Regions from separate parts of the Homo sapiens genome. Here region 1 is reported to be linked to region 2. Evidence: microRNA targets listed by miRTarBase, many of them from high-throughput screens and not tested one by one. Region 2 holds a microRNA gene; the other region holds the end of a gene's coding sequence.
What was found. Region 2 holds the annotated microRNA hsa-miR-450a-5p (UUUUGCGAUGUGUUCCUAAUAU, at 3,489-3,510, shown strand). A microRNA usually pairs through its seed, bases 2 to 8, with sites in the 3' UTR of a target mRNA and lowers its output. Matches are read on the target gene's strand: a 7mer-m8 pairs with bases 2 to 8, a 7mer-A1 pairs with bases 2 to 7 and ends in A, and an 8mer does both.

Region 1: miRTarBase lists CEP97 as a target of hsa-miR-450a-5p. Seed matches in the 3' UTR shown: 7mer-m8 at 567-573.

The regions. Positions count from the first base shown.
Region 1 is chr3:101,765,145-101,770,144 of GRCh38, reverse strand. CEP97 (centrosomal protein 97) reads right to left here. Exons shown (of 11, transcript NM_024548.4): 11 at 1-5,000. The coding sequence ends at 4,594. Among named protein-coding and RNA genes, the nearest start is that of NXPE3, 12 kb to the left of the region's middle. RefSeq lists an enhancer at 517-596.
Region 2 is chrX:134,538,896-134,544,073 of GRCh38, reverse strand. It overlaps MIR450A2 (microRNA 450a-2), which reads left to right and starts at 3,467; the gene lies at 3,467-3,566. It overlaps MIR450B (microRNA 450b), which reads left to right and starts at 3,812; the gene lies at 3,812-3,889. It overlaps MIR450A1 (microRNA 450a-1), which reads left to right and starts at 3,643; the gene lies at 3,643-3,733. MIR542 (microRNA 542) reads left to right here and starts at 2,637; the gene lies at 2,637-2,733. It also overlaps MIR503HG.

The sequences.
Region 1 (5,000 bases), not on the chromosome of region 2:
GATGAGGCAGGAGAATCACTTGAACCCAGGAGATGGAGGTTGCAGTGAGCCGAGATCACGCCACTGCACTCCAGCCTGGTGACAGAGCGAGACTCTCTCAAAAAAAAGAAAAGAAAAAGAAAAGAAAATGAACACAACTACTACAGAGTGATTCCTGCTATCCACTAAAATAAATAAGAATTAAAATTCAGTGTGATTTCCATTCATCCACAGATAAAAAGCACCTCATCTTAAGAAGACAATTATCTATTTCTTTCCAAGGCTGTGAGGACTGCTTTGTTTATTTGACTTTTAATTTTAATATGGCACAACAAGCTTGATCAGTAAAAGCAATATCATTAAAAATGTTTAGAATGTTCCTTACAGACCCTTTCTGCTTCACTTCATGAATGAGGGTATCATATATTTAACATTTAAAACATTATGACACAATAAATACCTTTTAAAGGTATGTGGCAAAATAAAAATATACTCTGATTCGAGCTGGTGTTTGGAAAAAATAAAAATATACATTAAACAATGAAGTCTCGGCTGGGCACAGTGGCTCACACCTGTAATCTCAGCACTTTGCGAGGCCGAGGTGGGTGGATCACTTGAGGTCAGGAGTTCGAGACCAGCCTGGCCAACATGGTGAAACCCCATCTCTACTAAAAATACAAAAAAATTAGCCGAGCCTTGTGGTTGCACACCTGTAATCCCAGCTACACAGGAAGCTGAGGCAGGAGAATCGCTTGTACCCAGGAAGTGGAGGTTGCAGTGAGCTGAGACCAGCCTGGGTGACAACAGTGAAACTCTATCTCGAAAAAAAAAAAAAAAACACACACACAATGAAGTCTCTTCTTTCCTTTATGATGGAGAAATGATCATATTCATTCTATTTTTTTCTTTTTACCATCTTAACTCCCGAGGAAAAACGTTTTATATTTTTATTATCAATGTTATAAATCCAATTCTAAGACTTTGCACACAAAAAATACCAAGGGAGATAGTATAATATCTCAAGCTTGTATTTTCCTGAAATTATTGGGAAAAAGTAGAACTAGACTTAAGTAGATAACAGGAAAATACAGTATTATGGTGTTTGTATACAAAAAATAATCCAAAACAGATAAAAACACACGCTCAAGATGGCACCCACATTATTCCAGAATAAAGTTATTTACATATATACAAACGATTATATGACTAAATAAATGAACATTTTCCTAAAACATGCATATTGTGAAGCCTTTTATAATTAAACCTATAAAATCAAACTAAATTGCATATTATCAACTGTCATGATTACAGCTTTCTGCACACCAGGAGAGTTAACATTTTAACATCTGTTCTACAAAACTGAAGATAAAATGTCATCAAACTCAGCATTTCTCTAGAAAATTTTATATACCTCAGCAACCTGTCATACTGCCTGTCGTCAAATAAATGGACTCTAAAATGTACTTATTCTTTTCAGAAAAAAATTTTTTTTGTAGAGAGGGGGGTCTTGCTATGTTGTCCAGGCTGGTCTTGAACTCCTGGCCTCAAGTGATCCTCTGGCCTCAGCCTCCCAAAGCACTGGGATTACAGTTGTCAACCACCACGCCAGGTCTCTTTTCTAAAACTTTAATTTCCACTATTGCTCTTTTGAAACCATTTTAATCAAGTCACATTTCTTAGAAAAAATTCACTCAGGGTTCTGAAGGAATTAGTTATTTTCTACAAGCAACTCTGTCATGAGTGATAGAGTTGTAGCTCTCTTAGAAGTTTTTTTCCTCTTTCAAAGAGAATGAGAAATATGCAGAGATTTCCTTACTGACTCACTAAATGTAAAGATTAAGAGGACATAATAAAATTTTGGACTACAGTAGCATATAGGTTTTCAGTTTATTTACTACTAACTAGCTATAACTTAGACAAGTCATTTAACATGCTGTGCTTTAGTTTCATCTTTGAAACAAAGAGATTCGAACAGAAATCTCTTAAGCTTCCTTCCAACTCTTACATGGTATGATTCTGTGCTTCTGCAGGAATTCTTAATTGATAAACTGAATCTTCCATAAATCAAGAGAACTGATGTGTACTAAAATAGCACAGCTGAACTAAACCTTTCCTTGTTAGGAAAAAAACACAAAGACCATGTTCAAAGCTTAACTTTCCAAACCTTACTAGACCCATTCCCTCTTCAGCCAACCAAAGAATAGCCCATAGAGTTAAAACCAAATATTTTAATTATATAAATTACTTTTAAAGTATAATGTAAACCCATTAAAATATATTAACTCTATGCCAGTTTTCCTACACTCTAATTTACAGTATTTTCATTTTATCTACATTCAAGATAATATGTACAGTTAAGGAAGGGGCTATTTAATATTCTTGCACTTCTAAACACTAGTAAAAGTTAAATAAAACACAGACGAAGAACAGAATATTAACAATTATCATATTGTGCCAAATTTTTAATGAAAGTATGCTGAGTACTATTTGTGGGCTAAAGAAACAAGGCAAAGGTAAAAAAGGAAATCCTGCTAACAAGTGCTGATGATCAAATGAATTTAGTTGTGTTTTTCCATAACTTAAAAAAGACAGGAGGGAGAGGATTTTAGCAGAAATCTATTTAGGTAATACTGAATCATGACATTCCAGCAGCTTTTATGAAAAACTAATGTATAAAGTAGTATTTTGGTACTAGTGCAGTGGAAATTGGTTTTTCTTTGTCTAACTATGGACAGCAAGTGAGGCACTTAACTTTAAAATAGAAAAATAGGGTATATTTAAGAAGACATTCAAAATCATTCAGAAAAGATAATTAGCACTATTGAAAAAAAGTTAGAAATTCCATTTTTATTTAACATGCATTCAATGTTACACATGTTTCACTAAGGAAAATCCTTCTGAAAGTAAGATTACTCTTTTATTTATAAGAAACAGAAAATATTTCCTTTTCAAGGGATTCTGGATTTCTAAGAATAAAATCCAAGTCGTCTCAACCTGAGTGCTACGTATTTATAAACTGAGAAAAATACGTCTTACCATACAGGAAAAATGTTATGACTATCAACAAATACCATGAGCTGGGAGCAGTGGCTCTTGCTTATAATCCCAGATACTCGGGAGGCTGAAGTGGGAGATCACTTGAGCCAGGAGTTCGAGGTTATAGTGAACTATGATCATGGCACCGCACCAACAGAGCCAGCCTCCATCTCTTTAAAAAACAATAACAACAAATGCCACGTACCATGTGATCCTCAACTTTATCCTTGAAGGATCAGATGCTTTTATTTTACATAACTTCAGAGAAGGGCACCTAATGACTACAACAGAATAATAGATATTTAGCACCTAAATTTAGAGATGCTTAAGTATTGCCATAGTTTTAAATAGCTGTATGTCTGTAAGTTGAGGGAAACCAAATACATGTTGTTAAACGATATTATCCTTAATTACAAATGCATCTACCTACAATATTCAAACACAATCTTATTTCTCCCTGAAGTTGCAGACATATATATATATATATATATCCCTTTTAACAAGTAAAGTGAGGTTTATTATTTCTTCACCATCATTAAATTGTCTTCCAAATGTGGAACTTTTTCAGGTTAGACAAAAAGTAGTTCCTAAAAAGTCATTCATATTCGACCAGTAGTATTACTTTAAATGTTCTTCACTATGGGACAGAGGTCAAAATTGAAGTGAATGGCCACGGACCTTCTGCTGAAATATATAAGTAAAAATAAGCAGGAACAGAGGAGATGAACATACATTAATTTCTGACAACATGTTGGCACAAAAATGCTTACCTATAGGGTGAAAAAGCACTTAATGAGAGGATAAATATTTGCCATGAGAGTATTTCAAGTGAATGGAGACTAGTGTTTCCTTTCTTCATATCTAAGTGAAATATTCTTGTGTTGCCTAAGTAAACTTGACTTTAATCCTGGATAGAACACTTTACTTCATATGTTAAAACTGATGCATGACATTAACTGAAGTTTTCCATGAGACAATTTAATCATCCCCATTGAGAAATCTTATAATCCTACCTTTTCTTCCTTAATTTGCTTATAGAAAGGCTTTCCTTGACTCCGAAAGGAGGAAAAAAGGCTTTAAAAAAACATTTTACACCAGGGAGACTGGCAAATTTCAATAATTCACAATCCTCATATTTCTCATTTATATTTGCTTTATCAAATTTCATTCCTTGCTATATAATTAATTTTCTCAGACACAGAAGGGCCAAAATTCTCTTATTTATATATTTAAGGTAATTTTTTCTATTTTCTTTAATATATTCTAGCTTATTTTTGAAAGTAAATGAGTACATGAAAGAAACAGGAACATTGTTGATGCAATTCAGTTAAGAAATAAAGTGCATATAGCTTTCAATATAAATAGTTTGGTACCTTACAGCTAAGTAAAAAGCTAACAAAATCAAAATGAAAACTCAGCTCAATATCTAGAATCTGAAAAATATAAGACATGAATACAAATTCTATATAAGTAGTAACAAAATTAGGGGTAGGGAGTATTTCCCTCCAAAAAAAAGCAAAGGCAACTGAAAGTATTTTTAAGAAAAGTTAAGTGGATATCTGCCTCCCAAAAGACATGCTACACAGTAACACCAACATGCAATAGCTGAAATGTAGAATCACATTCTGGCTGCTGCCCCTGAACTTCTGCATTTAATTTAGAATTCTCTTGTGTCTGGCTAATTTCACCTTGCAAAGGAGGAGATATGCCATGACTCTCATCTACAGAAGCACCGTCAGACAATGTATCTAACTGTACTGGGAAACAAGCAATGTGAAGTTTGCTATCTCTTGTCTCTGTATCAAAATTGGTCCTCTCATCAGCATCTTCCAGCTGTTGAACTGAAGTTAAATACTGTTCAAGCAGACTATTGTCCTGCTCGTTATTTGAGCTTTCCTTATTCCATTCACCATGTTCTTCACTAACATCCCCTAAATCTGATTCTTTGCCATATCTGACTGTGTCAATGGAATTCCCCATTATGG
Region 2 (5,178 bases):
AGTTGTGAGACAAGATACCCAGGTTGTTTGATAAACCAGAATTGAACATAATTTTTTAAAAATTTAAATCACAGGAATGTTTTTCTTGAAGGCATCCAGCATCTCCAGTTAGCAGTACTGATTTTTTTTCCCCCCAACAAAGGAACACTACATCAACACTGTTGGCGGGGACCTGGACACAGAAGACTCCTGTTTCAAGAAAATACAATCATCTCTCAAAGGCTGTAATTTATATGCATTTTAAAACTCTAGGCATTGAAAACCACCCAAGTGTCCCAAATAGAAGGGTAATATATAATCAATCACTCAGTGTAATATTATACATCCTTTAAAAATGTTATTGGGAAATGTTTTATGATCTGTAAGTCCAAGGAATCCTCTCCCACCATTTCTTTCCCCCCGCTGTTCCCCCATACCCACACTTCTTTGTTCCAATTGGCATGTAAATTTGGTTTTCCCGCCAAATGAGTCAGTCATGATGGGAACCTCAACTGATTTGAACAGATGTGTGTCAATGTTACTTGGAAAACTAGATGTCAATAACCAGGGTCACAGAAAAAGGCAGTGGTCACAACTCTGTAAAAATGTATGCATGCACACAGACAAGAACTAAAGTGGAACCCCACACAGGAAAACAGTGGGCTGTACTCCAGTGCTGGGACATTGAATGACTGTATGCTGCTTTTGATTTCCGTTAATATGGGCAACTGTCCAATTAAAAAAAAAACTCCTAAGGACTCTGCAGTGCAAATTGTTTTGCTGATTGTTTTAAAACACCATACCTATCAACTCATCAAGGCAAATGGGGCAGCGGGGGACTGGGTTCGTTCCCTGAATCCTGGACTGCTATAGAGCTCAGGGCAACATTTGCAGAAAACCTGAGCCTATGAGATGGGAGTTATAGGCAGCTTTCCTGAGGCTGTGTAAGATGAAAATAAAACTAGGTTCAAAAAATATGTTTGGGGAAGATCAATGAGTTTATCGATAGAAGTTAAAAGACTTGAGTCTGGCTATATGCAAGTTGGCATATGTTTTTAGAGATCTTTTTTCCCATTGGCCTGCAGTATGACTTAATCTCATAACCCTAGAATTTTATATATGCATTTGTATTTAGAGTTATTACATGACTCTTAAGCAAAAAAGAGTATATATACATCAAGTGTAGCAAACGTGTATCTCCCTGCCCCCCTACATCCCACTCAGGCCCACCCATTAGTTACTCCTCAGTGAATAAACAAGGATCGGCTAGCTCTTTCATAATATTTCACCTATCTGCCACCTTTTCCCTCCTCCCCAGCTCCACAGCTGATCTCTTTGGCAAGTTCAGCCAGGCTTAAAACCCCTGTGGGGATAGTAAATTGAGCCAAGAGGGAGGAGCCCCGAAAGACTTCCACTTCCTGTGGTTGCTTGGGCCTTTGAGCACTCCCCCTTCCACTACTGAGCTCTATAATCTGAGCAGTTGGTGGGTGTTTGGAAACATGGCCTTGGCTCCACTGCTGGAGTCAGGGAGCTCAGAACACTGCAGCAACCTGCCAGTGAGAGTCTGGGTTGCTTTGAAGCCTGAGTCTCCCAAGGCAGCTCCCTCACCTGTTCCCCCATGTCCACCCCCACCTGCCATCCAGACAAGACTATTACCCTAAGACCAGACCTTCTAAAGGCGTGGCCACAGAATCATCAGTATCCCAACATCTTGCCTTTGTATCGTGTGTTTACATACTTTTCCAAATACTTTGTTTTTTCTTTTTTTTCTTTTTTTAATTTGTGACAACCTTGAAAGACAAACAGAGTTAAGGCAGTCCAAAAAATAATTACAGACAAGAAAACTGGGGCCTCTGGAGGTTAAGGATTTGTCTGAGGCTACTCTCTGGGGGCTCTTCCTCCAGGCCTCATACTGTGTTCCTTATGTCATTACCTGTTCATCAGAACCGACTATGCAGTAGTGACCAGAGCAGGAAATGGAGGTGAATGTGTTTGGTTACAAAAATTCCCGGTGAAACTGGCTAGTCTTATGATGAGCTTTGGCCTATACATTGGACACTTCCTGGGTGAGGCCCAAGATTGGCCCCAGGATTACTAAATAGTGACTATAAGTTACCCAGCCGTGTACAAGTCAATCTGCACAAACCAAAAAAGCATGATTTAAATTCATTTTAAACCTCTGTCCCATGTTTGTTATTTTCTGTAGATTCAATCAAATTATCTTAAGGAAACAAATGAAGTGTCAAGCTATAGGGGTTGACTTAATCTAGTCACTCACTCAATGGAACCTTTTTCAGCCATTGCAAATAATAATGATAGAGAATATACAGAAACCTGGAAAATGCTTATGATATCAACTTAAAAAAAATCAGGGCCACAAAATCACATGGACACCATGATTGAAAAATAGGAGCAGAACCTGGAGGAAACCTGCAAAACAGACATACTTGTTACTTAAGGGTGGTGGGATTAGAGCTGAAGTTTCTTCTTTCTCTACTTTTTCATGGTTTTGTGTGTGTGTGTGTGTGTGTGTGTGTGTGTGTGTGTGTGTGTGTGTGAGATGCCACGTTTTCTTGTTATGTTGTCAAAATATAATTCTCTAAAAAGTCTTTAGGGGTCATGGGTGATACAGAAATTTGGGATCGGTCAAGGATGCACAGATCTCAGACATCTCGGGGATCATCATGTCACGAGATACCAGTGTGCACTTGTGACAGATTGATAACTGAAAGGTCTGGGAGCCACTCATCTTCATAGCAAAACATGTGGTAAGTATTACAAGACGAATCAATGAAAAGATCAGGAGGAAAGTGGGCCCTAAGCAAAGAAGAAAGGGGTTGCTATGGGATGGGGTGGGAGGATGAGTTGTGTTTTCATAGGAGTGTAATGGGAATGCCTTTATTTGTGTCTTTATTGCTTTAAATGTTTGTTGAATGAATTGAAACTTACATAAGGTATATGATTTTATACTTGTGCTAGAATGCTAAAATAAAGAATTTATGCTCAAGCAAACAACTGGAAAACACTTTGCTATAAGCATTACAGACACAGGGTCATTTTTAGTATGTTGAGTCCACACAAGTGGTCAAGAAAAACCATAAAAACTACATGAACAGAAAGCCCCAGTTAAAAAAAATGCATAAAGATGCTCATTTCAATATTTTAAGGATGGAAGTTAGGAACATCCTGAATGACCAACAACAAAGGATTAGACAAATAAAATACAGCGTAGCTAGCTAGTACAATAGAATAGGATGCTTTCATGTAAAATAATGTTTCTGAAAGTAATTTTCATGTCATGAGAATGTGCTCCTGATAAAACATTTAGCGATTGAAAAAAGGTGCAAAATATTTTCCCATCTCTGCAATATAGGTATATAGGGAGCATTCTGTATGAATAGTTTTGTATCAACATACAGATAAAAGGCTAGGAGGAAACATATAAAAACTTTATTGTGATTATCTCTGAGTTGTGGTATAAAGGTGACCAAAGAAAGATGCTAAACTATTTTTGCGATGTGTTCCTAATATGTAATATAAATGTATTGGGGACATTTTGCATTCATAGTTTTGTATCAATAATATGGGGAAAAGAGGCTATCAGGAAGTATACCAAAAGTCTAGAGGTGGTTATCGCTGACTTGTGTCACTATAGGCAATCAAAAACGATACTAAACTGTTTTTGCGATGTGTTCCTAATATGCACTATAAATATATTGGGAACATTTTGCATGTATAGTTTTGTATCAATATACAGATGAAAAGATGGAGGGAATAAGCAAAAAATCTAACAGCGGCTATCTGTGGTTTACTTCTGTGATAAATGTAAGATGCAGAATTATTTTTGCAATATGTTCCTGAATATGTAATATAAGTGTATTGGGATCATTTTGCATCCATAGTTTTGTATCAACATATGGAGAAAAGTCTAGGAAGAAATATACCAAAACTTGTAACAGTATTATAGTATAAAATTATAGGTAATGTTTGTTTTTCTCTTTATACTTTTATGTATTTTCCAAGTAATATTTGCATAAACAATAAAATGCATTGCTTTTATAGCAATAATAAAACATTTTATTTTTAAAAAGAGTTTGTATTTTTTTTAAAGCATGAACCCCTGACATAAGGGTGGGGGAAGACTTCCTATTTGGCCAGCAGTGGGCCTAGAATACTTTTTCAAACATATCTGGGAAACCTTTGTACAACTTCAGTTGGATCTGCAGTGCAAATGTGTTTTCATTTGCTCTTGGCAAAGAAAAGAGAAAGTATAACTAAAAAATATAACCACGACAGAGTTATAATAGTAATATTAGTAAACAAACTGCTATCTATGTCTAATCAAAGTAACATTTAAAGAAGTATAGAAAGCTGAAACAGGCTCCTTTTCCTCTAGTAGCAATTCAGGAAGGTGGTACTTGGATGCTCGCCCAGGGCCTCAAGACGCATTGGCCAGTTTGAGATATGCCCAAGTCAGGAAAACACCTTATTTAGGTTATTTCCACTCAGCCAACTTCTTGCAGATGCGGGTAAAGCCCCCCCTGCATTTTCCCGCAAATTCAGCTGAGCTCCATAGTAACTCTGGTGTTGCAGAACACATGTGACACCTCAATTTAGGCGATCCTTGTTCTGGTAAGAGATGGAACCATTTGGTCACGTACCTGGCCCATGGTCTGAAGGGCACCTACCAAGGTTTTAGCGTTCCTCAGTGGCACTGATTTGGACAGAGACACATTACAGGAGGATCTAAGTTCCTTCCTATCTTTTTAGTAGCATTTTGGGAAACTGTTCCCCCACCAAGGACATATTTGGCACTCTAGCAAGTCCATATGACTAGACATTACTTTCTTTTTTTTTTTTTTTTTTTTGAGACGGAGTCTGGCTGGCTCTGTCACCCTGGCTGGAGTGCAATGGTGCGATCTCAGCTCACTGCAAGCTCTGCCTCCCAGGTTCAAGCGATTCTCCTGCCTCAGCCTCCCAAGTAGCTGGGATTACAGGTGCCCGCCACCTTGCCTGGCTAATTTTTTTGTATTTTTAGTAGAGACGGGTTTCACTGTGTTAGCCAGGATGGTCTCGATCTCCTGATCTCGTGATCTGCCCACCTTGGCCTCCCAAAGTGCTGGGATTACAGGCGTGAGCCACCGTGCCCGGCCGACATTACTTTCAAAATAGATCCATCATATTCCTTAAAGGAGAAGC